4 linked regions of the Homo sapiens genome follow. The protein of the gene in region 3 interacts with the protein of the main gene of each other region in a pairwise test. Each region holds a gene or a part of one and is shown on either strand. Other genes may lie near its edges.

Region 1 (7,558 bases), on a different chromosome or scaffold from region 3:
GTTGGAGTGCAGTGGCACAATCTCGGGTCGCTGCAACCTCCACCTCCCAGGTTCAAACAATTCTCTCCTGCCTCGTCCTCCCGAGTAGCTGGGATTACAGGCATGTGCCAACGTGCCTGGCTAATTTTTTTTTTTTTTTTTTTTTTTTTTTTTTTTTTTGAGACGGAGTCTCGCTCTGTCGCCCAGGCTGGAGTGCAGTGGCGCGATCTCGGCTCACTGCAAGCTCCGCCTCCCGGGTTCTCGCCATTCTCCTGCCTCAGCCTCCTGAGTAGCTGGGACTACAGGCGCCCGCCACCACGCCGAGCTAATTTTTGTATTTTCAGTAGAGATGGGGTTTCACTGCGTTAGCCAGGATGGTCTCGATCTCCTGACCTTGTGATCCACCCGCTTCGGCCTCCCAAAGTGCTGGGATTACAGGTGTGAGCCACCGTGCCTGGCCAACAAAAGTGCCTGGCTAATTTTTGTATTTTTAGTAGAGGTGGGGTTTCACCATGTTGGCCAGTCTGGTCTCAATCTCCTGACCTCAAATAATCCACCTGCCTCGGCCTCCCAAAGTTCTGGGATTACAAGCATGAGCCACCATGCCCAGTTATCTTTTTTCTTTTTCTTTTTCTTTTTCTTTTTCTTTTTCTTCTTTTCCTTCCTTCCTTCCTTCCTTCCTTCCTTCCTTCCTTCCTTCCTTCCCTCTCTCTCTTTCTTTCTTTCCTTTTTTATTTTTTGATGGTGTCTCACTCTGTAGCCCAAGCTGGAGTGAAGTGGCGCCATCTCGGCTCACTGAAACCTCCGCCTCCTGGGCTCAAATGATTCTCGTGCCTCAGCCTCCCGAGTAGCTGGGACTACAAGCCCGTGCCACCACGCCCAGCTAAATTTTGTACGTTAATAGGGACGGGGTTTCACCATGTTGCCCAGGGTGGTCTCAAACTCCTGAGCTCAGATGATCTGCCCGCCTTGGACTGAGCCACCGTGCCCAGCCTTGGTTATCCTTTTTTCCTAAGATGACAGTGAGAAAGGGGAGGTAGGAAAGGTGAACAGCAACACATCATATCATTCTATTTTGTTGTTGTTGTTGTTTTGAGACAGGGTCTTTCTCTGTCGCTCACCCAGGCTGGAGTGCAGTGGCACGATCTCGGCTCACTTCAACCTTTGCCTCCCGGGTTCAAGCGAGTGTCACGCCTCAGCTTCCCAAGTAGCTGGGATTGCAGGTGTGTGCCACCATGCCTGGCTAGTTTTTGTATTTTTAGTAGAGACGAGGTTTCACCATGTTGACCAGCTTGGTCTCGAACTCCTGACTTCAAGTAAGCCACCTGCCTCAGCCTCCCAAAGTTCTGGGATTACAGGCATGAGCCACTGCGCCCAGCCATCACTCTCTTTTCAAAATAAATATCCACATTTTGCCAGCTGGTGTTCTGACTGGTACTTGCTCCTCAATTTTAGGAAAGAGCATAGTCCAGGCACAGTGGCTTATGCTTGTAATCTCAGCATTTTGGGAGACAGAGGCAGGTGAATCATGAGGTCAGGAGTTTGAGACCAGCCTGGCCAACATGGTAAATTGTCTCTACCAATAATAAAAATAAACAAATAAATAAATAAAAATTTAAAAAAATATAGCCTGGTGTGGTGGTGGCTGCTTGTAATCCCAGCTACTCAGGAGGCTGAGGCATGAGAATCTCTTCAACCCAGGAGGCGGAGGTTGCAGTGAGCTGAGATTCCCACCACTGCACTCCAGCCTGGGCAACAGAGGGAGACTCCGTGTCAAAAAAAGAAAGTAACCATTTTGGCCAGGCATGGTGGCTCACGCCTGTAATCCCAGCCCTTTGTGAGGCGGAGGCAGGTGGATCACAAGGTCAGGAGTTTGAGACCAGCCTGGCCAAGATGGTGAAACCTCGTGTCTACTAAAAATACAAAAATTAGCCAGGCATGGTGCAGGTGCCTGTAATCTCAGCTACTCTGGAGTCTAAGGGAGAGAACTACTTGAACCCGGAAGGCGGAGGTTGCAGTGAGCCTGAGATTGCACCACTGCACTCCAGTCTGGGCGACAGAACAAGACTCCATCTCAAAAAAAAAAAAAAAAAAAAACCGTCATGGAAAGAATAGAACCACAGAAGAAAAGGGAAAGTGTCTTATAATCATTGAGAAAATGTTAAGGCTAAAATTTAGTGTATCAAGCCTTGAAGAATAAAGAACTGAAAGTACATGTCATTAATTTCTTTAAAAATATAAAATAGTATAGATAATAGAAAAAGTAGATTTCACAAAATCCAAGACGTTTTGAAAAAGGCATCCGTTTGGAGTTCAAAATAGTTTTTAGCAAAGTAACTATTTATAAACTGGCTAATTCTTCCTATTCAATATTTCCAATAGCCTCCAATATTTCACTTCTTTCTTTATCATGAGCCAGACAGACCCTTGAGAACACAGCTTCAGTGACAGCCCAGGTCACTGCACCATCAGGCTTCTGGGAATGGAAATTATTGTGAGTCCTGGAATCTTTAATATTACTCGATCAGTGGTTCTACACCTTTGCACCCTTTTCATTATTCCCTTAAATTGGGTCCTCCTCCCAGGTTAAAAGTTCAGTGTACTCACATGTGATAGTGCTCTGGAGAGTGCTGTCGTGATCGAAAGCAATGACGGTCACTTCACAGGGTGGTGGGCCCCCATCTTCCCCATTTTGCTGGCGGCTCAGACAGCAGCAGCGGAAGCACAGGGACGTCAGGCCACACAGGAGAAGCAGCGCGCCAATTACCACTAGCAACCTGCAAAAGCCCACGGGGCGAGTGGGAGCTCTGGGATCTGGCTTTTTTCCCAGCTCTGCTGTAACCAGTCTTTAATGTCTGTGTTTTGATTCTTGTCTAAACATTTTATAGAATAATTATAAATATTTTAATTTATAATTTTAATTTCAAGGCTTTTGCTTTATAGATACACCTCCTTATTTTGTCAGCTGCAGTAAGTCAATTCATTAGAACAAATAGTAAGACATTTAAGGTAGTTTGGGGGGCTGCTTCTTTTTTCTTTTCTGAGACAGAGTCTTGCTCTGTTGCCCAGGCTGGAGTGAAGTGGCACGATCTCAGCCTCCTGAGTAGCCAGTACTATAGGCACATGCCACCACACTCGACTAATTTTTTTTTTTTTAGACAGAGTTTTGCTCTTGTTGCCCAGGCTGAAGTGCAGTGGCACAATTTCAGCTCACCGCAACCTCTGCCTCCTGGGTTCAATCGATTCTCCTGCCTCAACCACCTGAGTAGCTGGGATTACAGGCATGTGCCACCACGCCCAGCTAATTTTGTATTTTTAGTAGAGACGGAGTTTCTCCAGGTTGGTCAGGCTGGTCTTGAACTCCTGACCTCAGATAATCCACTGTCTCGGCCTCCCAAAGTGCTAGGATTACAGGTGTGAGCCACCGCGCCCAACTTTTTTTGTATTTTTAATAGAGATGGGGGTTTCTTTATTTTGCTCAGGCTGGTCTCGAACTCCTGGCCTCAAAGTGATCTGCCTGCCTCAGCCTCCCAAAGTGTTGGGATTACAGGTGTGAGCCACCACGCCCGGCCAGGCTCTGCTTTTTAATTCACTAAAGTAATCTTCGTTGAGATATTTCTAGAACAGACTCCGAGGGAAGGACACAGTAATGGTTTGATGTTTGCGGAGGAGATGGTATTGAAAAAGGAAATCCTGACATATTGTCACATAGGTAGTGATGAAGTAATGAAATCTTACTCCATGAGATGCTAAGTAAGTAGGCAGGTTGTCATTTTTAATGGCCTTGAGGAATACAGTGTCTTTCTGGGTATTATAAGTGAAACTTACCATATATACCAGAGATGTACCCAGTCTGTGGTCAGGCAACTATAAAGAAAGAATAAAGTTTTCTACATTAAAAATATAGTCAATCCCTGTTATAACTCCAGACTCAGAAATATGAGTTACAATATGATGTGATACCTTGTTATAAATAAAGCACCATGGGTTATGTTTTTAAAATTCACTGTAGCTAGTTGAATCTTTTGCCAAATGATATGCTTTAAATAGTACTTTATACTATAGATGGCATTGTCTGAGTCATTTTGTAAATCATTATAAAACAAACTAGTGATCATTAGAAGTGTCCATAGAAAACATGTCTGTGCCTATTGCAAACATTTATGATAAAAATGACCAAGAAAGGGCCAGGTGCGGTGCCTCATGCCTGTAATCCCAGCACTTTGGGAGGCTAAGGCTGGCAGATCACGAGGTCAGGAGTTGGAGACCAGCCTGGCCAACATAGTGAAACCCCATCTCTACTAAAAATACAAAAATTAGCCGGCCGTGGTGACGCCATCTCAAAAAGAAAAAAAAAATACTAAGAAAGAACTTGGAATGCAAGTTTACAAAGAGTAACTTTGAAAATGGATGTGAAACTTAAGGCTTGTGTATATTTGAGGTCAATAAAATGTAAACATAAAGAAAATTTCAGTTATGAGTATGAAAGTCATACAATCACATTTGTAATTTATCTTTTGCAAGCTGTTGCAACACTCCCACTGAGAATGTAGGAAAAAAAAAACTTAGTTTCTTCCTGCTATACTCTCCCAACCCTCTGACACCAGATGTGGGTGGGTGAGGATTTCCGCACACACCAGGCAAGCAATCTTCCAGCAACAGACAACAGCTGAGCGTCCTCTAATTCAATTCAATGCCAACACCACCTGCTTGGAGATAGGATCCGATCCCATAGGGTGAGGACTCAGTCCCCTAGACGGCTCCCCAGAATTCTGATGCCAATCACAATTTGTTTTGCCTGTGCTTCTGACCTACTGGTTATAAATTGGGGGTTCCCTGACTCCCTCTTGAGGTTGCGTTAATTTGTTAGAGCAGCTCACAGAACTCCGGGAAACACTTACTTACATCTACAGTTTATTACAAAGAATATTACCGAGGATGCGGATGAAGAGATGCGTAGAGCAAAGCATGTGGGAAGGGGCACGGAGCTTGCAGGTCTTCCGAGTGCACCACCCTTCAGAAACCACTGCCTGTTCAGCTTTACAGAAACTCTTCAAATCCATCCTTTGGGATTTTCATGAAAGCCTCATTATGTAGGCGTGATTGATTAAATCATTGGCCATTGATGATCAACTTAAACTTCAGCCCCTCTACTTTCCTTGGATGTTGAGGGGTGAGGCTTTAAGCATTCTGCATTGGTCCTTCCAATGACCAGCCCCATCCTAAATCTACCTAGGGGCTGCCAGCCACCAATCAACTCATTAGCATGCAAAATGATGCTACTTACTTTGGGGATTTTAGAAGTTGTATGCTAGGAGATAGGGACAAAACCAAATATATATTCTCACAATATCACACCCACCGTAAAGAGTACCCTAATTTTTCACATCCAGGATCAAAACTAATTTGCATATCCACTGAGACCAAACAGGAAGAGGGAAAAAAGTAGAAGCCAACTTTACCATGATGAAAGCTAAATAATGTTCTGAGTTCACTATGGCAATTGTAAATTTTCTCTGTAAGAATGAAAAAAAAATAGGGATTGTATGGGAGAAGGAGAAGATAAGTTCAGGAATTGGAGAATGAGGGGAGGCAAAATATTTGTGTATCTTTGAAGAGTAGTAAATTTTGTTATTTAATAATTCTTTCTGATACAGGAATCTACTGAAATCTAGTGAATCTATTTTTATTCTCTGGTCACACATTTATAGAAAATATAGTTTTGTTTTGTTTTTCACTGAACAATGACTCCTCTTGGTTTTCCCACATTTCTTACTTGTTGAAAACTCTTCTAGTTCTAATTAGACTCTGGTTTATAGGAAAGGACTCTTCCTATGGTGGAAGATGTGTAAAACCTCAGAAAGCAGGTGTCAAGTAGTCAACACCCAATTTGCATGTGACAGGTAATCAAGGCTATCACCCTTTCCCTGGGTTTAACAGACCTGGCTATTGGGAAACCCTTCCCATGGCTAAATATGTATTTTTCTTCATCCTAAACACGTTTTTATTCAAAGTGCCACTACTTTTTAAAATTTGTATTTTACAGTTCCTTTAAGTGGAATGATTCTTTTGCATTTTTATCTTCATGTCCTCTGTGTCTACATAAGACTTAAGTGTGACAGGTTTGGATTAGTTGATAACTACATCAAAGTGATAGCTAAATGAAGTCTGCCCAATAAATGTTAACATGCCCTAAAAACTAGAAAATACTTTCCCAATTTAAAGTAATAATGTTACTTTGGAAATCACCCAAATATATATGCCAGTGACTAGATACTAAACCGTCTGTCCTGGTGAGTCACTGAGGAGCAGGGCTAAGGAAGTCTTTTGCAAGTCTCTATGACTGTATAAGTTGAGATTAATCGTGCTGCTTTGATGGGAAGATTGGCTTTGGGTAAAAACATGCTGTCAGCAGTGTTATTTTGAGTGCTTAAGATGACAAAAACACGTCTTTATTTTGTGATAAGTCATCTATGAGATCTATTACTTAAGTAAAAATAAATAAAAAGAAGTCATAGATGTCTAATGACATCTTGACTCTCTTTTGGGGTAGTGATGTTTTGGTCTGTTGCTCCTTCCTCCCAGCTTGAACTCTATACTTACTGTTCAGGATTACCACAGTTTTCCTCACATCTCGTCCCAGAAAGCTGTAGAAAGAGAAATTGTCTTATACAGGGAAATTGTTTTGGCCACTGTGTTCAGCTGCTTACCAATCATCTCTCATGGTTGTGCTGTGTTAGATCAAGCAGTAAGAAGGTCACGGTCATAGGGGCAGTCTATTTAGGACTGCCATTTTCATCTCTCCCATACTTGCTGGCTTTTGTACTTGAGGTAAGGGAACCTTGAAGAACAAATATCTCATCTGTTGTGTTGATGGTGGGTGAGCATCACCCTTTGTGAATGAGAGGTAGCCATTTACATTAATTTGTTTGTAGTAGAAAATTCCTGATCTCTCTGTCCCTTGGGATATTGCCATTGTCCTCCTAATTCCTGCCCAGTTGAATTCTACACCACTGCTCTTTTTTTATCCTGTTAGTGTGACAATGACTATACAAAGGAAGAAGGGGAAAAGCGAGGGGGCCAGTGGGACAGAGAGTCTTATTTATCGAATAGCTACTAGATGCCACTCAGACTGCTAACAAGTTTTTTTTTTTTGTTTTTTTTTTTTTTTTTTTTGAGTCTTGCTCTGTCACCCAGGCTGGAGTGCAGTGGCGTGATCTTGGCTCACTGCAACCTCTACCTCCCGGGTTCAAGCAATTCTCCTGCCTCAGCCTCCCGAGTAGCTGGGACTACAGGCACGTGCCACCACGCCTGGTTAATTTTTGTATTTTTAGTAGACACAGGGTTTCACCATGTTGGCCAGGCTAGTCTCGAACACCTGACCTCAAGTGACCCACCCACCTCCGCCTCCCAAAGTGCTGTTGGGATTACAGGTGTGAGCCACCGCGCCCGGCCATGAACTCTTAATATTTCATAACATTTAATCACAATAACCCTCTTGGTGGGTATATTTAACCTTATCTTGAAAGGTTAAGGGACTAAGGCACAGGGTTTTAAGTAATGTGACCAGGCCAGGCGT
Region 2 (7,274 bases), on a different chromosome or scaffold from region 3:
GAAAGAAATCTGGAGTTCAATATCACTGCCAGAATATTGCCTTGCTTTTTTAAAACAAGGTGACTAAATGTCAGACTAATTAGTGTAATCCATTTCACCCATAAATCTAGCACTATAATTCTCAAACTTGATTTTGCAACCCTAGTAACCTCAAGAGCTACTGCAAAACTATATCCAAATACTCAAAACAGGTTTACTTTTGATTCACCTTAAAAATTATAAGGACACATGTGCTCAATGTCAGCTTTTTATAAGACAGAGGAGAAGTGGTGAAATCAAATTAAAAATAGTACGATTTCATAATGCCCAAAAGCCTGTAAATGTCTATACTAAGGAGTTGGAATCATTCAAAATTCCCAGATAAACTGAATTTAAGCATTGATACATGATATGGTTTGGCTGTTCCCCCACCCAAATCTCATCTTGAATTGTAATCCCCCAAATCCCCATGTGTTGAGGGAGGGACCCCGTGGAAGGTGATTGGATCATGAGGGTGGTTCCCTCATGCTGTTCTTGGGATAGTGGGTTCTATAAAATTTATGGTTTTATAATGCAGTTTTCCCTTCTCTTGCATGCTCTCTCTCCCCTGTCACCATGTAAGACGTACCTCTTCCCCTTTTGCCATGATTATAAGTTTCCTGAAGCCTCCCCAGCCATGCAGAACTGTGAGTCAATTAAACCTCTTTTCTTTATAAATTACCCAGTCTCGGGTATGTCTTTATAGCAGTGTGAAGACGGACTAATACAATATGCTAATGCAAGTGGGAAAACTAAGATTGATTTTGGAATGAAACATGCAGTCTCAACTTAAGAACACCCAATTTACAAAACTATATATATCCAGACAGAGTCATACTGAATGCCATGTTCTCCCACATCAATGTCAAATGCTTAGCATGGCCAGCAAAAAGCTGTTCCTTTGCTGTAATGCAACCGTGTCTTCTGAATATGGATCCATATTCACTTTCCATCTTATCCTCCATCAGACACACTCTTCTTTTCCTAAAGCATTTGCAGGGCAACAGAGGGTTCCAGGTTTCAGAATTTAAACAGTCGTATCTCATTGAAAATAAGTTTAATGATTATTAAGTTTCCAAGCTAGATTACAGAAGTCTTTTTAGCCCATATCATAAATAAAATAGTTCTGAATTTTTCGTATGGAAAAATATACTCTGAGTTCCAAGCAAACAACTTAAGAAAATTTTTAGAACTAACACATTCCTATATTGGGAAGAGCTCAAAAGTCTGTTCTTCCTCCCCATCCACTGTTGTTTAATTAATCTCTTAATATCATAAAGTCCCTCATGTGCCAAGTGTAGACAGTCATTTTTGAATCAGGGCTCACTTTGTTAGCTTTTTTGTCAATTAAACCTCTTTTCTATATAAATTACCGAGTCTCAAGTATGTCTTCATAGCAGTGTGAAAACAGACTAATACAGGAATTTGGTACCAGGAGTGGGGCATTGCTATAAAGATACTTGAAAGTGTGGAAGCACCTTTGGAACTGGGTAACGGGTAGAGGTTGGAAGAGTTTGGAGGGCTCAGAAGAAGACAGGAAGATGAAGGAAAGTTTGGAGCTTCCTGGAGACTTGTTGAATGGTTTTAACCAAAATGCTGACAGTGATGTGGACGATTAAGTCCACACTGAGGTGGTCTCAGAAGGAGATGAGGAACTTATTGGGAACTGGAGTTGCCAATAGATCAGCAGTTAACCAGAAGCTTGAGTTGAGTATGGACCTGACATATGGATAGACATATTGACATCTTATGCTAGTGTTCTGGCCCTCCCTGCCCCGACAGTGATAGAAGCATCCATCAACGCCCATCCTGACATCAGCATAAAGCACAGGTTGGAGAGATTGTAGATAAAGGCAGAGAGGCTATTATAATGCTTCTCACCTCCAGTTCCCCAGATGGAAGACAAGGAGGCCCTGGAACAAAGGAATGGCATTTGGGACAAAGTGATGTTGGCAAGTAAGAAATGCAGCAGTGGTCCAACCCACAGGAGATGCCAGACAATTGCTCATGGCATGAGATAGGGTCATGAGGAAAAGCTGAAGAACTGAAAATCTTTCTTCTTCCCTCCCTAGGCATTCATGCTCCCACCTCATCTACATCCCACAGATCCTCCATTTTCTCTAGGTATGAGATTTATTTCCAAGCTAGACTGAAAGCTGGAAGAAGATGGGACACATGTCTGCTTCATTTTCTATTTCCCCAGCATGTAGGTGCAGCACCCAGCCCCTAGTTGTTTATCAATTATAGGTCTTGATGGTCATGTCCCCAGCCTCCCGCCTCAGGAGTAGGCTTCACATGTCTCCCTTTCAGAAACAAAGCCACGTAAGACTCCAAAACCCCGCCTTCCCTTGGGCTCCACACAATCAGCATACATCTTTCCTTATCTGTTTTGTGCTCTGAAAATCGTGTCTACCTCCAAATGATACATCTTTAAAGTGAGTCACCCCTCCTCACAATCTACTCCAAAATTTCCAACAAGTTTTCTTCTTTTCATTCTTCCTCCCACCAGCCTATCCTATTCCCTTCTCTCCCCCCACAAAATCTAGCTCTTCTTTAAATACATTTAAACATTTTCGCTAGGACATTTCATCTATACAGGATATGCTATATTCTAACTATTTCTTAGTAAACATTGAAGGGAGTTTCTTCCTTTATTCAAGTATGGAACCCTGCTCAATATCCTTTTGGTCTTCATATGCCTTCTTTCAAGGCCTTTGTGAAATTTTTTTCCATGCCTGAAAGCCGGTGGGGTTTTACACAGGGACTGCGATGGCTAAATCCAAGGCAGAGTGGGATCTTTATCTATTAACCATTTGATAACTCAAGTTTATCCCTTGATGAATGAATAAGTTATCATTTGCCTTTGGGTCCCATTCTTGAGTGGTCATGGAGAGTTCTGTAGCTCACCCTCTTTATACTCATAATTTGCACAAATTTCACCTAAGAGTATTTACTTAACCACTTTAATTCAATTTGTCTCTACCTAAGACATTTAATTCAACAAATATTTTTTAAGCTTCTCTATAAAAGGGACTCTGGCAACTTTCAGACCCGCACTGTAGCACCAGCTCTCTGCTGGCCCACCCCTTGCAGACTTTGGGCTTGCCTGCCTTCAAAATCATGTGAGTCAATTCCTTAAAATAAATATATTTTTATTTATTTATATATATGTTTGCACACACACGCGAATCTTATTTTTTCTGTTTCTCTGGAGAATTCTGACTAATGCACCCCCATTCACCATCCAGGCTTTTGAGGAGAAAGATACCAATCTTAGCAGCAGAGGACACTCTGGATAGAGCTAGGAGTTTGTTGCAGAGTCTGACAAAAGTTCCCTCTGCAGAAGGGATGGAAGGATAGCCTTGGGGGTTGATTTAGGACTGGGTGTATGACATGGGGGAAAAGAAATCCCTGGGGGAGCTAAATGAGGGGAGGTGGACCCCTTATGATAGTTTATCAGAGCAATCTAAGAAATCATGTAGGCCTCTAAGAAAGCATCAAGAATCAATGCAATTTGATTAATTGACTTAAAATATGTTGAACTTTTCAGCCTCCATTGTGTATTTTTGGTGCAATACTCTGTGCAACTATTTCATCCAAGACCAGAAGGGGCTGGAAGATTGCCTGCTTCACATTAAAACCCTCCTTATTGTATTGGTGCTGACACGACACAAGGATATGCAGTCTTTATCCAGTCCTTATTGCTCACAGAAAGATACCAGTCCTTACTGCTCACAGAAAGTAGTGAAGCCTCCCTTCACTCACAGAGCCCACACAGGTATGCCCTGGTTTATGTAATGAATGGGCTGCTACAAATAGGTGTGATGCATGCCTTTGTGAATCACTTTATATTTTGAAGACACATTAGAGGAGCTGGCTATTTCAAAGAAATTTCACAAGTGCCTCATTTCTTAATGTCACAAGCATTTCTGATTTATAATCATAACCCCTTTCTAATGTATTAGCTTATGAAGTTCCATTTTTTGCCTAAGAGGTTTAATCAAAGCAAGATAAAACTATGCTTAATAATATTCAGTTACCTGAAAGAGCTATTGCAGAAATGCCTAATATATTACCAGAAAGTAGCTTAATGTCTCAAATAAATGTCAAGTTGTCCAAATCAAACTGATAGGCAGCTTAATGAGGGATAAATGTCATAATTATCCATATTTCTCCACATTTTTTTTAGAAAAAAACATTCACACAATGAAGGGAATCAGAATCTGTTTTTATATCCCTAGAGTTATAAACATTTGTATCAAAATATTTACAATTATAGTATATGAAATAATCTATTAACGAAGAAGCCCAATACAGTACTAGAACAATCCACCAGAGTAATGCAAATTACATGAGACATAAATGTCACAGAAAAAAAGTAAAAGATAAGGGAATACATGGTTTACTCCAGTCATAGTTCAACTTCTTAACAAAATGTGAGTATTCCCTTTGGATATGTCTGAAATGTAAGTATGTTTTTTGCACTAAGACAGCCTTCTATAATCATGTGATAATGAAATCATAATGACAAAGTTCATCTTCCCACAGTTTTTGCTGGCCAATCTCTCTAACCTCAGCCTAGGTAATTTGGTGGCTTGCCCTCAACATTTCCTTAACTAGAATAAACATAGAGAAATAGAATTAGTAATAATCCTTTTACATAAATACCAAAAATCATGGCATAACAACTCCCCAAAAAGGAAAGGTATAAAAGAAATGGATGAGGAGAAAGCTAATAAAGAAAAGTAGGCAAGATGTCTCAGATTCTCCCTGGGGTAGATCTTCTCAGGGCGATAAAGAAAACGTCTTCCCAAAAAACCCCTTTAGACAGAATCTGAGATGGCTTAAAATAGCTGCTCCAGGGCAAAGCAATGCCTGCTTAACCAGGAATAACATACTACTTCTAAGTCCTGTATAGAGGTGCTCCTGCGGCAGCAGACAGCTCGTCTACCATCTGACTAGGTACCACAAGAGTTTTTGCTTTTTTATTTTAAAGAAAAGATCTGCCCATCACCTATATTTTTATTTATCTCATGGGATTTTCGTATTTTCCTGGGAATGCAGGCACTCTGTTCTTATCATGGCTGAAATACGGTAGGCTTAATACTTCACAATTATATAGCACCTTTCACCCAAGGGCCTGTTGTTTGGTTTTGGTTTATGTGTGTTTTAATCAGCTTCCAGAATTGCCATGCCTCACCTGTGAAGTGGGATAGGCAGGGTCCCCAAGAGGTGATCACTCCAGGTGGTGTCTAAGCCAGAGCTACCACTGAGCCTAGGAGCCCTGATCCTCAATATTGATAATTAGACAAAACTTCCTCAAAAATGTTAGAGGAAGAGTAATAGGATTGTGCTACAATGAGCCATGTCCATCTCTCTCCTGTTGTATACTTAAAAGAAACACTGACTGCATTGAGGGGAATCCTAAAAACATAACCCTAACATGGCACTGTTGCAAGACTGCCCCTTGGATCCCATAGTTTGTGTGGTACTTTTACCACCGAATTGTTCACTAGTGACTTTAGAGAAACTCCAGAAGAGCTGCCTTGGCTTTCAGCAAGAGGCCTAGCAAAGACCATGGCATGAGGTCTCCATGAGGGACAGCCGTGTGTGAGGTCTCGACTGGGCTCTGACCATCCCCCAGGTTTTCCATTGTGAAAAGGTCTCCTTCTTGGTTTAGCTAACCCACCAGCATGACCTTACAAACTCTCTTTCCTCCTCCCATTTTGTCACTGAATTCCACAGAGCTAAATATCTGTTCCAAAGAGGGACAATGGCTCACAGGCCAAAGCCCCCCAGTAGGCACTTCAGACTGGAATGTGATGTTTTGCTTTGGGTCAGAAGGGCAGGATGGCTTCCAGGCTTAGCGTATTCAGCACAAAGACAGTATCTGCTCTTGCCAGAACTTGTACCGCTATTTTAACTCAGTGCAGTAGGTCTGTGGACCTCAGTGCATGACCCAGAAGTGGGGCTGGTGTTGTGGCAGCTGATGGGGCCCCAGACAGTGTGTGTCACTAAGAACAGCTGGAGGCCAAGTCTGGTGGCTGCAGGGAGGCTCTCTGGACCCCATCAAGGGAGCATCAAAGTACTAGCCAACTACTTTCTCCCCAGGGCAGGGGCTTGGCAGTAGAGAATCCCCTCAGTAATGGTTTGGGATTTGACCTCCCCCCTTTGCTTCCCCCTCCCCCCTCCCCTATCTCGGTTTTTCCTGTACAGCAACCTCCACTTCCCTCCCAGATTCAACGGCTTCCTCCTCCCCACCCCCCAGATCCCCATGAACTCGTCCGGCCTTATTTCTTTCTCAGGACCAGATAGAGAACGCCGATGATGAAGCTGAAGCAGAAGCAGATCCAGCCCAGGATGTAGGAATAGCCGTGGTGATACTGCGTTCCATCACGATTCGCATAATGACTAGTGTAGATGGACACCCCCACAAGAATGCACAGCCCTGCAGGGGAAAAGGAGATTTGTCGGTGTGTTTTCTTACATTAAAGTCGAGAAAAAGTTTTACTAATTTTAAGAAGATCCTATTTCCCTCATTAGCAATAGGAAAATGAATTCTGCTTGTTTGTCCCTAAACAGGAGTTCTGATGGATGTCCCCTGGGCCAAGCTCGACGGTATGTTGATAAATTAGAGGTGTCTGGGCTCTCATGTCTGCACTGGTTTGTGTGGCCACGCTGTGATGTAAAACACAGAACCTCATGCCTACCACCCAGCTGTCCTGTCTGGCCCTTGTGGGTCTAGGAAAGCTACTCAGGGATGCAAAAGAGCATGTCCTTCCACCAAACCGAGTATATTGGGAAAGAACAACAATTAAGTGAGAATCACAATAATGATGTGCATTGTGGCAGTGGTTTCATCTTTCTGAGAACTCCTACCTTTCTGCCTTCTTGAAGTGTCTTGTACACACGTGCTACTAACAGATATGCACTGCCACTTGGTAGCTACCCAGGAGCACTGGTTTTGAACAATGAAGCAGATGAGGGTTCTTAACCTAAGCAGCAATCCAAGGTTCTCCACAAGAGAACAAATAACCAGAGGAGAAAATTGCACAAGGAAGTTTCACTGAACCATGTGCTAATCTGTTCAAGTTGCCAGAAACACCCATGGTAAGATGGACTTAAAAGTGTAAACTGGAGTCTACCCATGAGATACTCACAGCACACCAGTGTGGTGGCCCCTGAGAGGAAGAACCGGTTTCCCTTCTCCATGGTGAAGAGCTGGAACACGAAGACCAGGAGGGCAATGACACAGA
Region 3 (7,558 bases):
AGCTGGGCTCAGTCTCCCTCCCCTGTAACAACAATCCTGAATAAAGGCTTCATTTCTGGTTTAATGTGATTCACAGGAATTTTTCCTTAACTGGGTGAGCTTCCCTGGTTGGCAACACCGCATGTGTTTTGTCCCACATTCACACAGGAGAACACAGCCTCCTGAGGACAATGAAGATTCACACCTGAAATCCTCCCAGACTCTGCCCTGTGTGTCTCTTCCTTAGGCTGATTTTAATCTGTGTTCTTTCCCTGTGATAAACCACAATCGTGCAATAGCAGTTTTCAGTGAGTTACGTGAGTCCTTCTAGTGAATTATAAAATCTAAGGATGATTTTAGGAATCCCCATAGATTTGCAGGTGGTGTCAAAGGTAAGGGTGCCCTCAGACATTGCAGTCTGGCTATCTCTGAGTACTTTGAATTCAAACAAAAACAAAACCTCAGAAAGACAGGAGATCACTTTGCCTGGCATCTGCTCCCTTCCAATGCCTCATGCCCTTTCACCTGGCTGAAGGCTACTGGGTGCGGCCACTGCCCCAGCTGACTGGAGTGGGAGATCTGGCTATTCATTCTGGCTCCACATGGACGCTCCAGCCACCTTACTGCCTCCTGACCTACCACCTGCACCCCCAACCTTCCAGGTCTCACTCGCAGGTGTCACCAGCCTAACTGATGCCTTAGCAGTGACAGCTTCACCTGTGTGCACAGCAAGGCCATGTGCAATTTTATGGAACCACTAGAAGACTCAAGACACTTTCAGAACCATCTATATAAATTGCTAATGCTGAAAAGACCTGAATTTGGTCAAGATGGTAGAGGAAGTGTTTTCCTCCTCGGTTGGGACTTTGTGAGTCTGCTCAGTACCCCTGAAATTACACAAATTGGCAGCAACTCATTCTACTTTGGAAATGGTCACTAAGGCATGCCATGGTAAGGAGCTTCTCTGTGTAGAAGAGAAGAAGGTCTGAAAGGGTAGTCCAGAACTCACCAGTTCCAAGGCATGGGGTGAGAGACACAGGCTACCATGACCCTGTATGCCCATGAGTGTTGGGATCATCCAGACAGGGAAGAAATATCCCTCTCCCACTCACATGTCCTCTGCAAGTTCATGACCTCCTTAAGTTTCAAGCCCTTGGTGCCTCTCTTTCCACACCCTAGTCCCAGCCCTGGTGCCCCAGCCTTCCTGCTTGTCCTACCAAACCAAGGCTGACTCTTACTCCATCCTGACTCCAGGCTCTGACACTGGTCCCGGTCTCTCTGGGCCTTTGAGCAGGATCTTAGTCCTTGGTTCCCCACCTTTGACCTGGAGTTGCCTCTAAGGCCTTCACCACACTCCTATGACATTGAATTGCTATTCCTATTGGACAGAAGACAGTTCCAAGTCTCCATGACATAAGCCCAGAGCCCAGGAACTAGGCCTCTCAGGATCCTGGACCAGCAGAAGGGTCCTGCTGTGTTTGTGGAATTCTTCAGATGAGAAAAAAGGCCCCAGCCAGCATCCCCAGGAACACATATTGTTTAGGTTAGGATTTTTCTGACTTTTCCCAAAGGAAGTCCTGCTGGGCTCCCATCTTCAAGAAGAAGATCCTTAACCCTGGTCTCTTTCCACCAAGCTTGTAAGATGTTAACGTTAACTGTGCACCTACTATGTGTCAGTCATTATGCTAAGCACTTTACATGCATGATCTCATTTTTCTCATAATAAAACTCCATTGATGAAGAAAGGCTGAAAGTGAGAAAGTAACTGGCAAAGTTCCCATCACCAGCAGATGGCAGAAATGACCCTGTTCCTGTGGGCTTCCTATCCCCTCAGCCTGAGGCTACTCACTGCCAGCGAAGGACATGGAGGAAATATTCCTCCTGGAGTGCCGAGAAGGTCATCCTCAAGCCCAGCAGAGGGGGCTGCCTGGAGGAGGTGTGCCTGTCAGGGACAACCAGCCCAGGGGAGATCTGAGTGGCATCGCTGGGGCGCCCCATGGAGTTAACCCCATGGAGCTTACCTGGGCAGTTCAGCAGCAGCCACGAATCCATTCCAGGCTTCATCATCAGTCAGCAGTTGTAGCAGATTCTCTCTGCTCACTTGGTCCTGGAAATACTTAAGGTAATCCTCAATAAAGATACTGCTCTCTAGTTGGAAAGAAGAAAGGATAAGGTTGGAGGATAGTGTAGGGGAGCATAACAGCCATTGCACATTAGGTGGTTACATGTTAATTTTTCCTGGACAACTGTGATGTGGGACATGTTTGATGGAGTCATCAGTGCTATAGAGGGATTGTGTGCCCCCAAAATTCATATGCTGAAGCCCTAAACTCGAGTGACTATATTTGAAGATTGGGCCTTTAAGGAAGCAATTAAGACTGAATGAGATCACAAGGGTAGGGCTCTAATCCTACTAGAGGGCTAGTGTCCTATTGTAAGAAGAGAAAGAGAAACAATAAGGCCAGGTAAGCACACAGCGCAAAGGCAGCTGCCGCAAGCCAGCAAGAGAGTCCTCCCAAGGCTCCAACCCCTTAATTTAATAAACCATCAAAGACAGAAACCCCAAACCCCACTGGGCCCAACTGGCTCTTCTGAGTCCACCTGCACTTCCATCCCTGAGCCTGTGCTTCTGCTTTGCAGCTGATTTGTTTTTTCTTTGACTCAAATTTTTTCTCTCAGTGGAGTCAAAAACCTGGACAAGGCTAAGGTCTGGTCTCTCCTGGATTCGGAGAACTTCCTAAACCCACCAGCACCAATGTGACCAGGAATTTTCCAAAAAGGTAAATCAAAACAGGCAGTTTTGTAACTGCAACCAATCAAATAATGTCCTTATTGCAGTTTCATATTTACTCGATAAATACTTGTCTCTGACACTTTTTCATCATAACATGAAGCCTCTTCCAGTTTGGTTTTCTCAATTCATGAATTCCTTCTTATTCAAATAAATGTTACTGTGCCTCAGATTTTTCTTTGACAAGGGGTATCTGAGATCATGGGAATGAGGCCCTGCCTGAGGCAGTCATCCCTGGTCAGCAGGTGCTTGTGATGGGCAGTGCAGGGCGGGTGCCCTAACACAGATGAGGGGACTGGGTGGCTTCCACCTGGAATCAACAGGGGATAGATAGAGGAGATAGAGGGGATGCAAACTAATTCTTAGGGAGGCCCTACTGTGTGGCAGGCTTTGGCCAGGCCAGGTACCCTTATAATATTTAATCTTCGTGACAACATGGGGAAATATTATTTTCATGGTACACGAGAGGGGAGGTAAGGAGCTCCAGGTCACACAGAAGGGACTTGGAAAAGGCCAGACCGGGGTCCATTTAAGTTGGAAGCTGGGTCAAGCATGATACATTCCCATAGGGCCACTCAGAACAGAGGGGCTGGTGCAGGGCAAGAGCTGGAGGGAGGGGACCGGCCTGTGCTGGAAAAAACCCTGGGTCAGCAGGGAGAAGAGCGGTAGATAAGAGATCAGGGCTGCAGGTCAACCTCCTCTCCCACCCCTCCCCTCCTCCTGGACCCTGCTCTTCCCCCACTCCCCTCTCTTGCTTGTTCCACTTCCTCATGGCTGTCCTGCCCCACTTGAGTCATCTGCTGGGTGACAGGGTAGGGAGGAAGTGGGCACCTGGGCCGTGTCACCCCGAGGAGAGGTCAGGATGCAGATGACCCCCAGACCCCTGGGTCGGGGGACTCCACGTGACCTCTTCTGCTGCTCGGGGCAGACTCATTGGCCTCCTAGTCCATCTGGGTTCTTCTGGGGCTCACTCAGCTGTGGAGGTGCCACCCTCCATTCTAGGTGCGAGTAGGAACTAGCCAGGAAAGAGGAAGCGAGCCTACCTGGGTTCATGGTGCCAGCGGCTGGGTTACCGAGGGGCTTTCCTTGGAGCTCTCCAGTCACTGTCCAGACTGGAAGGTTTTCCTTAACCCTTGAGAACGAGAAAACAAATTGTGGGATCGAAGGTGAGCCTCCTGTGTACAGAGGGAGGCTGGAGGGGCTGGGTCTTTGCAGATCCCTCTGTGGTAGCAGCAAATGTCCAGAGTGTTTATCTCCTGGGGCCCTGCCAGCTAGTATTTACAGAAACTCACCTCGTTCCAGCTTCCTCTTCCCTCACTCTCACACCAAGGCAGGGTCCTCTTGTCCTGTAGGGGTATGAGAAGAAGATAATCAGAGGAGGGGCAGCCATCTGATCATTACAGAAACTACAGAGTCTATACACAGGAATAGAGATGGGAGGGAACATTCTGACAATGACCTGGGCCTGGGAACATGTATGATAACTAGTTGATGATAGCCAGTGTGTATTGTGTGTCTGTGATGTGCATGGCCTCTGACATGTATCTCATTCGATGATCACACACAGGACAGGAGATGGGTACCACTTTCCCATTTGAACACAGAGGAATCCACAAAAGTTAGGGAACTTATGGGTGTTTTCACAATAGTGCTAGAGCCAGGACTTCTGCTTCAATCCCATGTCTTCAATTACTGTGCTCTACTCCCTTAAATATACAATATTGAGTCATGTATACACGCTCATGGTAAATGACTCCTCATTGCAAATCCCTGTCTCACACTCTGTGCTCAACTCTTCGTCTTGGTGAACTCACTGGTGCTGCAGTGGACAGCCTGTGTCCCCGTTGCTTCTCTAAGATTCTTTGTCCCACAAAGACCTGGATCCTGCTAGATGCCGGCCCAGCCCCTGCTGTGGCTGCCGAGCCCTCCTGATGCTTCCCCGTCCCCTCTGCTGTCCTCCCCTAGCTGATGGACCTTAGGGTGTTTCTAATTCTTCATATAAATTATGCTACAAAGAATATCCTCCCTCACGTAAAACTGCTCACATTTGAGATTATTTCCTTAAGATACTTTTAAGAGTAGAATGACTAGGTCAAAAGCTATTAACATCTCAAAAGTTTTTATACCTAGAGCCACTCTGTATGAAAACTGTACAAATTCACACTCAAACTAACAGGATATGAAGATGTCCATTCTTTCAGTCTTACTGGCTCTCAGTAGTCTTTTCTTCAGGAAAACAAAACAAAACAAAACATTATTCCTTGAGACAAGGTCTCACTCCTAGTATGCAGCCCAGGCTGCTGGCAAAATCCTGGCCTTAGGGGATCCTCCCACCCTGCCCTCTAAAGTGCTGGATTACAAACATGAGCCACGACACCCGGCCTGAATAAATGCTGATCTTTATATAGAGGAAAGTTCTTCACATTCTGCTCCTGATTATCTTACCCTGGGAGGTGAGGGAAAATAGCAAATGTTAATCATATTAATCATCTTTAGGCACTGTTTTAAGAAGACAGAAGAGCATTTATCAACCTCCCCTCCTGAGATCAAACTACAGCCATAGTCAAGGCACTTACAGGTATAATGGCACTTAATGTTAATGTGGGCAAACATTGGTGGATTTTGCACCACTAATTGCTCTAAGATGTTATAAATAGTAACTCACAGAACTCTTCCAAGAACCTAGGAAGTGTGTACCATTGGTATTTCCATTTTCAGGTAAGAAAACTGAAACAGATGTTCAGTGACTTGCCCAAGCTCAGAATCTACTACGTGGTAAAGACTGGGTTCCCACCCAGACAGACGGACTCAAGAACTCACGCACTGCCTCTGCACCCTCTGCTGCCAATGAAAATTTAAATGAGGGCAACAGGAGATCAGAGATGCCAAGAGATGTTGGAAAACAGAACTGGCTGAAGAAATGACAACTGAATAAAGAGGGGTGAAGGGAGCTGTGAACCACAGCAATGCCAAGAGGGCATCCAGCCAGGCAGAGTGGTCTACTAGGCAGAGCCTCAGAGAGGGGAGGAGTTCACCAGGCCCACGTGCCATATGGGATTCATGCCAGCCTTGAGTCTACACCAGTGAAAAAAATCAGAGAGTTCATGACTGAAGCAATATGCCCCAGAAATAATATCTTTGTATTCTGACACTTCAGTGGGTTCCCATTCAATCACCCTACAGGGAAGACTGCCAGTAGACCTGCCCCCCACCCCGTTCAATATGAATAGATCTAGGATCAGAAATTGGAGAAAGGTGAAAGTGGGGAAACAGACCAAGATGACCAAATACAAAAGGAGTCCAGAACAAACAAGTAATTTTTTAAATCTCAAACCCATGTCCTCAGGGAGATTAAAAAATATTTTATTCATAAACTTAAAACAAGATATATAGAAAAGAAGAAAAATCAATGAAACAAACAAAAAAAGAGATTTTCTAGAAACTAAAAGGTGATGATCAAATAAACAAGTCTAGAGAGACCATGTGAAAGAAAGTCACGGAAATCCTCCAGAAAATAAACCAAAAAGATGACAGAGGAAAAGGAGCTATATGGGGAATAGAAAAGTTACCAGGCACAGGGTCACAGGGTGTTCTAAGAAAGCTACTTGAGAATGAGCCACCGGGAGGAAGAAAGGGTGGGTGGGTGGGTGTGTGTGTGTGTGTGTGTGTGTGTGTGTGTATGTGTTGTGCATCCATGGAGGGCAGGTGGGGATAACCAAGAAAGAAAAAGACATGGGATCCAGAAAACAGGAAAATCAACCCAGAGAGAAGGGAATCTGAGGATCACAGTGGGACATGCAGTAGGCCTACAAAACGACCAGTCCAGGATGGAATAAAAAGGGAATGGTTCTGTGGGAAAAAGGGACTCAATAGAATACCTCAAAGGATTCACAGTTTGAGAGAAACTGAGGAAATGAAGAAGGCAAGCAGTACAAGGGAGGAAAAAAAACAAAGGCAATTAGAAACATCAGGAAAAAGTAAAGCTGTGCCACAAAACATGTGCAAACATGGTGTACAACTCAGCTCCACAGTAAATAGTATTTAAAACATCACAAAATGTAAACACTCTTGATTGATTTTTAACTTTGAGAACAGAACAGAGCATATAAATATGAGAACTAAATATACTTGTTACCGATTAGTACAAACTTAAAGCACAAAGGTAGCAGTTGGGATGTGAAGCACTGAACGAAGGAGAAGGAGGATTAATATTGTCATCTTTTAAAGAGGGGAGTCAAGAAATACTAGGTAAAACTGAGAGTATAAGAAAGAAAGTTGTAAGTAAATTGTTTACAGCTACAAAGTTGCTAATGGAGGACATAAAACTGGTGATACAATATTAGGAAAAGGTGGAGAGGAGAGATAGAGGGAGTGTACAAACAAGATGAAAATGACTAATAATGACACTATAAGTAATAATGATAATACCGATTCAGGCCCATCCCAGTTAGGGGCGGCTCCAAAATCACCATTGTTCTTTTCTCACCTTGTGTCTCTGCGCACTCCCCGGCACACCCACTTCCAGCAGCTGGTCTTTGTTTGCAGACTTTATTTTAACAGCTCAGTGGTTCCCGGGCATCCTCCAGCTCTTATACAAAAGCCCCCTCCTCAAAAGCCACTCGCCTCCCTCTTTCCACTTCCCACCTCTGTTTCAGGGTCGAGGCATCCAGATATCTGTCTTCTGGGGCCCCTACGCAGCAAGACTAAAAGGGGGACCCAGTCCTGGGCAGCAGTTCACCAGGGGAGTATGCAGAGGGGCATCTGGACACTTCTTGCTGTAAGGGACGG
Region 4 (7,558 bases), on a different chromosome or scaffold from region 3:
CTCTGCCTCCTGGATTCAAGCGATTCTTCCACCTCAGCCTCCCGAGTAGCTGGGATTACAGGCATCCGCCATCATGCCCAGCTAATTTTTATATTTTTGTAGAGACGAGTTTTCACGATGTTGGCCAGGCTGGTCTTGAACTCCTGACCTTAGGCGATCTGCCCGCCTTGGCCTCCCAAAGTGCTGGAATTAATTACAGGTGTGAGCCACCGCACCTGGCCCTCAAAGAGAATCTTTCTACCTTCATCTTATTTTACTTCTTGGTAGCATTCTATAGGGTTGAAGATTGTACTTGTGAGTTTTGAGTTTCTTAATTTGTTGAATGGATGTGATTAATTTATATCTTTAGTGTGATCATGCAGAGAAATTTATGAGGGATAGTAATGGAAAAATTACAGGAAATCTGAAAATTTAATAAACTTGACATTTTTATTTTCTCACTAGTACAGGGTTATCTCTAATTATGAAATGTACTACCCTTTTCTCCTTTTCTGTATTATTTTGGAAAATTACAGCCTTATAATAGAGATCAGAAATGTGTTAACATTATGGCTGATCTATCTGACAACAGTGTTCTAAGAAAACAGTATCACAAATATACTTTCTCACCATAGTTGTTCAAAACAGAAGTTTTGTAAGCGAAGAATCAAGCATTTAAACCAAAGGAAAGTTAGAGTGATGTCATCTCTGGTTGAAAAACATAGTCTTTCTGAACAGATTTTCAATGTCCTTCAAGACCATAACTAATATAAAATTAAACAGTACAATTGCTAATAATATAAGCTGTACACTTTTTATATTAAAGTGATGCTTGCTACAACATGACTTTACTAAATTGGATTTCTGCAAAAGATAAAACACCAGGCATGGTTGCTCATGCCTGCAATCCCAGCACTTTGGGAGTGCTGAGGCAGGGAGGATCACTTGAGTCCAGGACTTCGAGACCAGCCTGGGTAACACAGTGAGACTCTGTCTCTTAGAAAAATAAAAAATTAGCCGGGCATGATGAAGCATGACTGTAGTCTCAGCTACTTGGGAGGCTGAGGTGGGAGGATCGCTTGAGCACAAGAGGCTGAGGCTGCAGTGAGCTACGATCATGCCCCCGCACTCCAGCCTGGGTGACAGGGCCAGACTTTGTCTCAAAATATATGAAAGTAGATAAAATTAGTTTACTTGCTGAACATGATCAAATATAGCAAGTTTCCAGTAAAAGACTATTAGGACAAACTATGTTAACACAACCTCAGATGATGAAGCATAGTTAAAACAAAACAAAACAGCTTTGGGCATATTCTATACTCCAACCTCTGTGGTGCAAAGGGACTATATGGCCAACCGGATGTTGAGGGAGTCACAGAACTGCTGCACATGTGGTTTTTAAACATGATTTTTAATTCCCCCTAAAGTGGAAGAAGTCATCTAACAAAATTTATTATGACTTAAATTGCTACTGCTTTATTTAGTTTTCCTCAAACTTTAACAAAATAAATAATTATGTAGTAAATTATAGTCATTAAGCTTGAAAAATGTTTCAATTGAATGGGAAAACTTCCTGTGATAAAGCCTCCAATCATCGAGTAAGTCAATATATTTTACATATAAATTTTCCAACATGTTAAGCACTAAGCTTTTAACTAAATAGCTAAGGGGAAATTGTTACCACCAAATGCAACACATATCCTGCCTTTTTGAATAACACATACTACTTATCTTGATTCCAATTCATCACTAAACATCACTTGTATAATTTGATCACAGTGATGTCCTCAGAGACAGTTGTATGCAGAATCCTATAAATTGTCTCAAGCTGCTATGCCTTTAATGTTCACCTTAAATTTATTTTTGTTCCCCTGACTTGCTGTCAGCTGTCACATTTTGTAGTTCACCCCTTCTGCAAGACCCTTTTGATACTTGTGATTTGTTAAGAAGCAGAAATCAGATAACCAAACTTGTTAGAATTCAATGTGAAGTAAGAATAAGTAGACTCTGGGTAGCTGCTGCCTCTACCATTAAAAATTTTTTAAAAAGAAGACTTTTTCAATTACCACTTAATTTGAACTTGACTTACCTAGACTACTATTAGTCGATATTAGTTTAACAGAGGGAAAATTGTTAATAAAGTAGATGTAATATGTAAACACATACATCATTTCCTTGTTCTGGATCTATCAATGATTTCATACTTTGACTATATCTAAATTATCTGCTTTTCCCAGCCTTCAAAGTGGTCTTTAATTCACCCCTGCTTTCCATGGGTTAAATTTCCTACAATGCTGAGATATTTATATTGGTTTCCTCCTGTCCTACGAACTTCGTACTGATTTCTGCCACAATAAATTTGATTAGATGAAAAAAAAAAAAGACTTTTTTTTTTTTTAAGATAGGGTTTCACTTCTGTTGCCCAGGCTGGAGTGCAGTGGCACAATCTTGGCTCACTGCAACCTTGGCCTCCTCAACTCAAGAGATTCTTGTGCCTCAGCCTCCCGAGTAACTGGGACTACTGGTGCGCCACTGTGCCCGGCTAATTTTTGCATTTTTCTGTAGAGATGAGATCTCACCACGTTGCCCAAGCTGGTATGGTACTCCTGAGATCAAGTACTCCACCCACCTCAGCCTCCCAAAGTGCTGAGATTACAGGTGTGTCGTCACTGCACCAAGCCAATGAGGCACTCATTTCTGAATAAAGTACAAGCATTAGTAACATCTCCCCTGGTCTCTCCAGATTGGTTATGCTGCCACAACTGAATTCTAAATGGGTTAAGTATTATACAATTACTTAGGCTTCTTTGGTAGGTATCAAATAAAACATCCACCTAAATTCTTAAGAACCTTGTTAAATAGTGGCATTTACAAACTCTCTATACAGATTCTGACAGCACATTTCTATTGGAAGACTATGGAATCACAATGAGGAAGGTAGTACTATATAGATCAGCAGCTGGCTTAATTGGCTTCCTGTAACTTACTTATTAACAAATTAGGTTACAAAATACAAAGTCAACTTAATGAATCATCGTATTTGGCATTGAACTCAAAGCTGAATTGTGTGAATTGTGAGGTGCTTTCCATAATTCAACTTGCTTAATTACCCATATGAATGAATCATTCATACCTCAAGCCTGCTAACACTTTTGGATACCTGATGTTTATGTAATAGTGATGTTCATTTGCTGAGTAAGGCATGAGTAGTTTCCTAGGTAAGCAGAAGCAGTCCTCAAAACAATCATGTGACGCAGTAACAACAGGGCTGTATTTTGAAGGCTCTAGAAACCGAAGACATGTATTTCAAGAGCCAAGTTACTTTTTTTTTTCTTTTACCACTTATCCTCAAGTTCTACAAGTTACTTACACTGCATCAATTCAAATACATTTGGTTATTAGATGTCTATTTTTTAAAGATGGACAAGATAAAATTGTGTAAATTTACAAGAAGTAATGCAAACTGCTAATAATGCTTATTTAAAGGAGTTATTAAAGCAACAGCTTACTACCAACCCTACGCTTCTGAAAAATGTGCACAGGTGGGAAAAGATATGGGCATAGCTCTTAGCATATTTTAACAACTGAAAATGTGGCAGGGAAAAAGTCTTTATTCTGAGAGTACAACCATCTTACTTTTGGGGTATTAAAATTACCTTTTATGAGATAATTCATTTTCAATGTTATTTGACAAAATTCAAAGTTGGTCATTCATTTTAGTCTCCTCATTTTTAGTAAATTTGCCTCCTGTAAAATCTAAGTTATGGGAACCACTAGAACATGTGTGAAAACAAGTTGCTGTGAGATGCAGTGATAGATTTTACAAAAAGAAGAGCATTTCATGAACACAGATCAGGATATCCAAAATTTTGGTGAGGTGGATTTTTTCCAAAGTCTGGTGACCAACTGTGGAAAAATAATTGGTTAATCTGACAGTGAGGCCCCTTAACAGTGTTGAAGAAAATGTATCCGAAAAAGCACCCAGAGTCAAAGAAGTGAGAGCAATGCTGTATTTATCCCCCACTGACATGTGAGGAAAGAACAATTTTGGACATACACCTTGTAAAACTTCTCAAAAACCAGACTACATTTCTAACTCTAAAATACATGCTGCTGGTCATGAAGATGTTACGATCATATAATTGAACCTACTGACATTACATGTAATAAATTAAAAACCCAAGTACCATGCTTAGTGTAGTGTCTGGTACATACAAGTGCCCAATAACAATTAGTTTTATTTCTAGAAGGATTACCTCTGTCTGCCTCTTGTACATTCTTATAAAAAGAAAGCAAAGTGAACTGAATAAACTGTATCTTAAATAGACTAAAGAAAAGCTTTTGTATTTGTCTTTTCTCAACTAAGCAGTTTCCAGAGTGCCTAGCAAGGTCTCAGAAACGCACTCAGTGAAGGGAGTTAAATGGTAACTCTTTTACAACAGAAAGGATTCCCTACAGAGCCCAGCAGAGGCGGAGCACTAGGTTGCCCAGCCTGGCCTTGAACTCCTGGGCTCTTGTACTGCAGCCATCCTCCCACCTCAATCTTCCCAGCAGTTGGGACTACAGGCCTGTGCCATGGCACCTGGCTAAGGATAGCTATTATGAGAGTAGTAATGTAAGATGAAACTAAAAAGATTCATAATAGTAGGATTAAAAAGCACAAAAATTTTAAAGATTCTCCAGTACGTTTATTTCACAAACTTTTTTGTACAGTTGACCCTTACACACGGGTTTGAACTGGGTGGGTACAATTACGCGCATACTTTTTTCAATCAAATGCAGGTGAGGTCACACAGATCAGCATTTGTGCATGGGATGTGAAACTCATGTGTACGGAGGGTCAACTGGAGGGCCAACTTTTCTACATATGGGTTCTGCAAGACTTTCTGTGGGACTTGAGTATGGGCAGATTTTGGTATATGTGTGGCCCTGGAACCAGTCCCTAGCGTATACAAGGGATGACTGTATTTTAATGGTTTATAGTGTTAAAAAGAGAAAAATATCCACATAAACACAATTTTGAACACTGAACTATTTTAATATGAATTAATGTCTTATGTTTATTACCAATTATCTTCAAATTGCAGCAGCCCATGAGTTTGGTTGTAAGTGTTCTTGCCATTCCACCCCAGCTGTCACTGAGTCAGTTTAAAATACACACACACACACACACACACACACACAGACACAAGCCTTTTGTAAAGTAAACAAATCTTTTATACTGTAAATAACTGTTCCTCAATGGAACTTTTTGTATCCAGTTTACTTCTTTTCTAAAGCTGGGATATTCATATTAAATACACAACAATCTCTATAAAGCAAAGAGTCTATCTCTGTGAAAACACAAGTAATTCTTGATGGCAATATTTTTCTTAATTCACCTAACCAAATGCAGTTTGGAAGGCCAAAACGAGAAAAAAACACTTCAGATTATCAAAACCAAAAGAGATATGAAAAAATAACATATTTAACAATGTAGGTGGGAATTTTAAATACAAGATCCTGTTGAAAATATTGATATTCAAAGAAACAAACAGCTTTGGATCCATAGCCACAATTTAGGTTTTCCTAGATTAAAATCAGAAGTGATTTTATTGTTGGAAGATACATTAATTCTTTGAAGTCAGAATAAGAGGCTTGACAATTTAATTTCTAATTAAGTGACTGAATAGACAAAGGATCAAATACAAACAGTAGTGCAGGAAGAAAATAAATTGGAAGAAATAATTGTTCAACCAGTAGTAATAATTAAGACCACCATTTTAAAATTTTCTATACACAAAGAATGAGAAAATATTGTTATTATTATTATACTTCTTTCTTCTTCAGTATTAGTGGACCCACATTATCTCCTGTCAATTCATTGTGTTTATTATGTGAACCATCGCAGGCAGGAAACTAAAAAGAAAAAAGAATTACAAGTGTTATTTTTAAAATATGATTCATTAGGTAGAAACATTTGTGAAATGCTCTCAGAAAGAAAGCATATCACTTGCTAAAAAAAATCAGATCGTTTTCCTGAGTAATAGTTACATTCTACATCCAACTGAACCATATTCAAAATCTAACAATTTAAACAGTTACTTCATTATTTGGTTTAGATTTTAAATAAAAACCTATGAATGAGTCCATATGAGTGATTAAAATAGACAACAGGTTTAAAAGGGAATCGAATAAGTTCTTGGTCATTTGTGGAGCTTAAAATTCGAGCTCACCTATTGCTTAATTTTAAAACAATGGAATTTAATTCAAAATAAATTATAATTTTTTCTTGCTATAAAACTCATGCATACCACACAATTTTTGAAAACAAAAATATATTTTAGGCTGGTGCGGTAGTTTACGCCTGTAATCCCAACACTTTCAGAGGCAGAGGTAGACAAATCACTTGACATCAGGAGTTCAAGACTAGTCTGGCCAACATGGTAAAACGCCATCTCTAACTAAAAATACAAAAGTTAGCTGGGCGTGGTGCATACGCCTGTGTCTCGGGTACTTGGGAGGCTGAGGTGGGAGAATTCCTTGAACCCAGGAGGTGGAGGTTGCAGTGAGCTGAGATCATGCCATCACACTTCAGCCTGAGTGACAGAGCAAGACTCTGTCCCCCGCAAAAATAAATAAAGAATAAATAAAAATAAATTTTAAAAAATTCACTCATAACCCATCCAGATACACATAATAATAATTAACAGTTTGGTATATTTTTTCCTATGCATTTATTGTGTGTATTCTTTTTTTTCTTTTTTTTGTGAGACAGTCTCACCTTGTCGCCCAGGCTGGAGTGCAGTGGCGTGATCTTGGCTCACTGCAACCTCTGCCTCCTGGGTTCAAGTGATTTTCCTGCCTCAGCCTCCTGAGTAGCTGGGACTACAGGTGCATGCCACCACGCCTGGCTAATTTTTTTTGTATTTTTTAGTAGAGACGGGGTTTCACCATGTTGGTCAGGCTGTTCTTGAACCCCTGACCTGGTGATCCACCTGCCTCGGCCTCCCAAAGTGCTGGGATTACAGGCGTGAGCCACCGCGCCTGGCCTGCGTGTATTCGTTTTTTAAACAAAATTGGGATCACACTGTAATATGCTTTCTTACTCATATCAGGATCTCATGTCATTATATATCCTTTAAAAACATGATCATTCCCTTTTTATCAGATATTTAGTTTATAAAAATTTTGCTATTACAAAGGATGCTGTGATGAGCAATACTGTATTAAAAACCTCAAATAATCTATGATCAAGTACAAGAAACAGATTTTGTCAACTACTTATAGTACTTATCACTCCAAACTCCTTCCCACATTAAAAATCATCTATAATTGAGGCTATCATTTACTACCTCATATTATTAAAGCAGTTTACATATATCATCTCACTTCTCAAAGATATGTAATGTGGATGTATCAGGTTAAAACAAACCCTGAAGATTAGAGATTAAAAATTAAGTAACTTGTCCAACCAAACTCATACTGTGACAAGTATATTTGACCACTATTTACTATGACACCAAAGCTTTTTTCCATTAAACCTTAGGTCCTCTCTCAAAGAATGTGTATTTTAAAATACATGTTACTCTACATAAAT

What was found.
Region 1: the proteins of APOL2 (region 3) and TMEM52B interact in binary tests that used the Homo sapiens proteins (3 or more experiments, as listed by UniProt).
Region 2: the proteins of APOL2 (region 3) and EMP1 interact in binary tests that used the Homo sapiens proteins (3 or more experiments, as listed by UniProt).
Region 4: the proteins of APOL2 (region 3) and CISD2 interact in binary tests that used the Homo sapiens proteins (3 or more experiments, as listed by UniProt).

What each region holds. Positions count from the first base shown.
Region 1 is NC_000012.12:10,181,618-10,189,175, reverse strand, and holds part of TMEM52B (transmembrane protein 52B isoform 2 precursor), read right to left. Parts: intron 6,627-7,558; coding exon 6,583-6,626; intron 3,847-6,582; coding exon 3,808-3,846; intron 2,757-3,807; coding exon 2,587-2,756; intron 1-2,586.
Region 2 is NC_000012.12:13,213,726-13,220,999, reverse strand, and holds the end of EMP1 (epithelial membrane protein 1), read right to left. Parts: coding exon 7,179-7,274; intron 6,467-7,178; coding exon 6,309-6,466; 3' UTR 1,059-6,308; downstream 1-1,058.
Region 3 is NC_000022.11:36,229,340-36,236,897, forward strand, and holds part of APOL2 (apolipoprotein L2), read right to left. Parts: intron 7,510-7,558; exon of another isoform or gene 7,257-7,509; intron 4,997-7,256; exon of another isoform or gene 4,897-4,996; intron 4,117-4,896; 5' UTR 4,063-4,116; intron 3,903-4,062; 5' UTR 3,824-3,902; coding exon 3,814-3,823; intron 2,128-3,813; coding exon 2,001-2,127; intron 1-2,000.
Region 4 is NC_000004.12:102,885,660-102,893,217, reverse strand, and holds the end of CISD2 (CDGSH iron-sulfur domain-containing protein 2), read right to left. Parts: intron 5,878-7,558; coding exon 5,788-5,877; 3' UTR 411-5,787; downstream 1-410. UniProt on the Homo sapiens protein: Regulator of autophagy that contributes to antagonize BECN1-mediated cellular autophagy at the endoplasmic reticulum.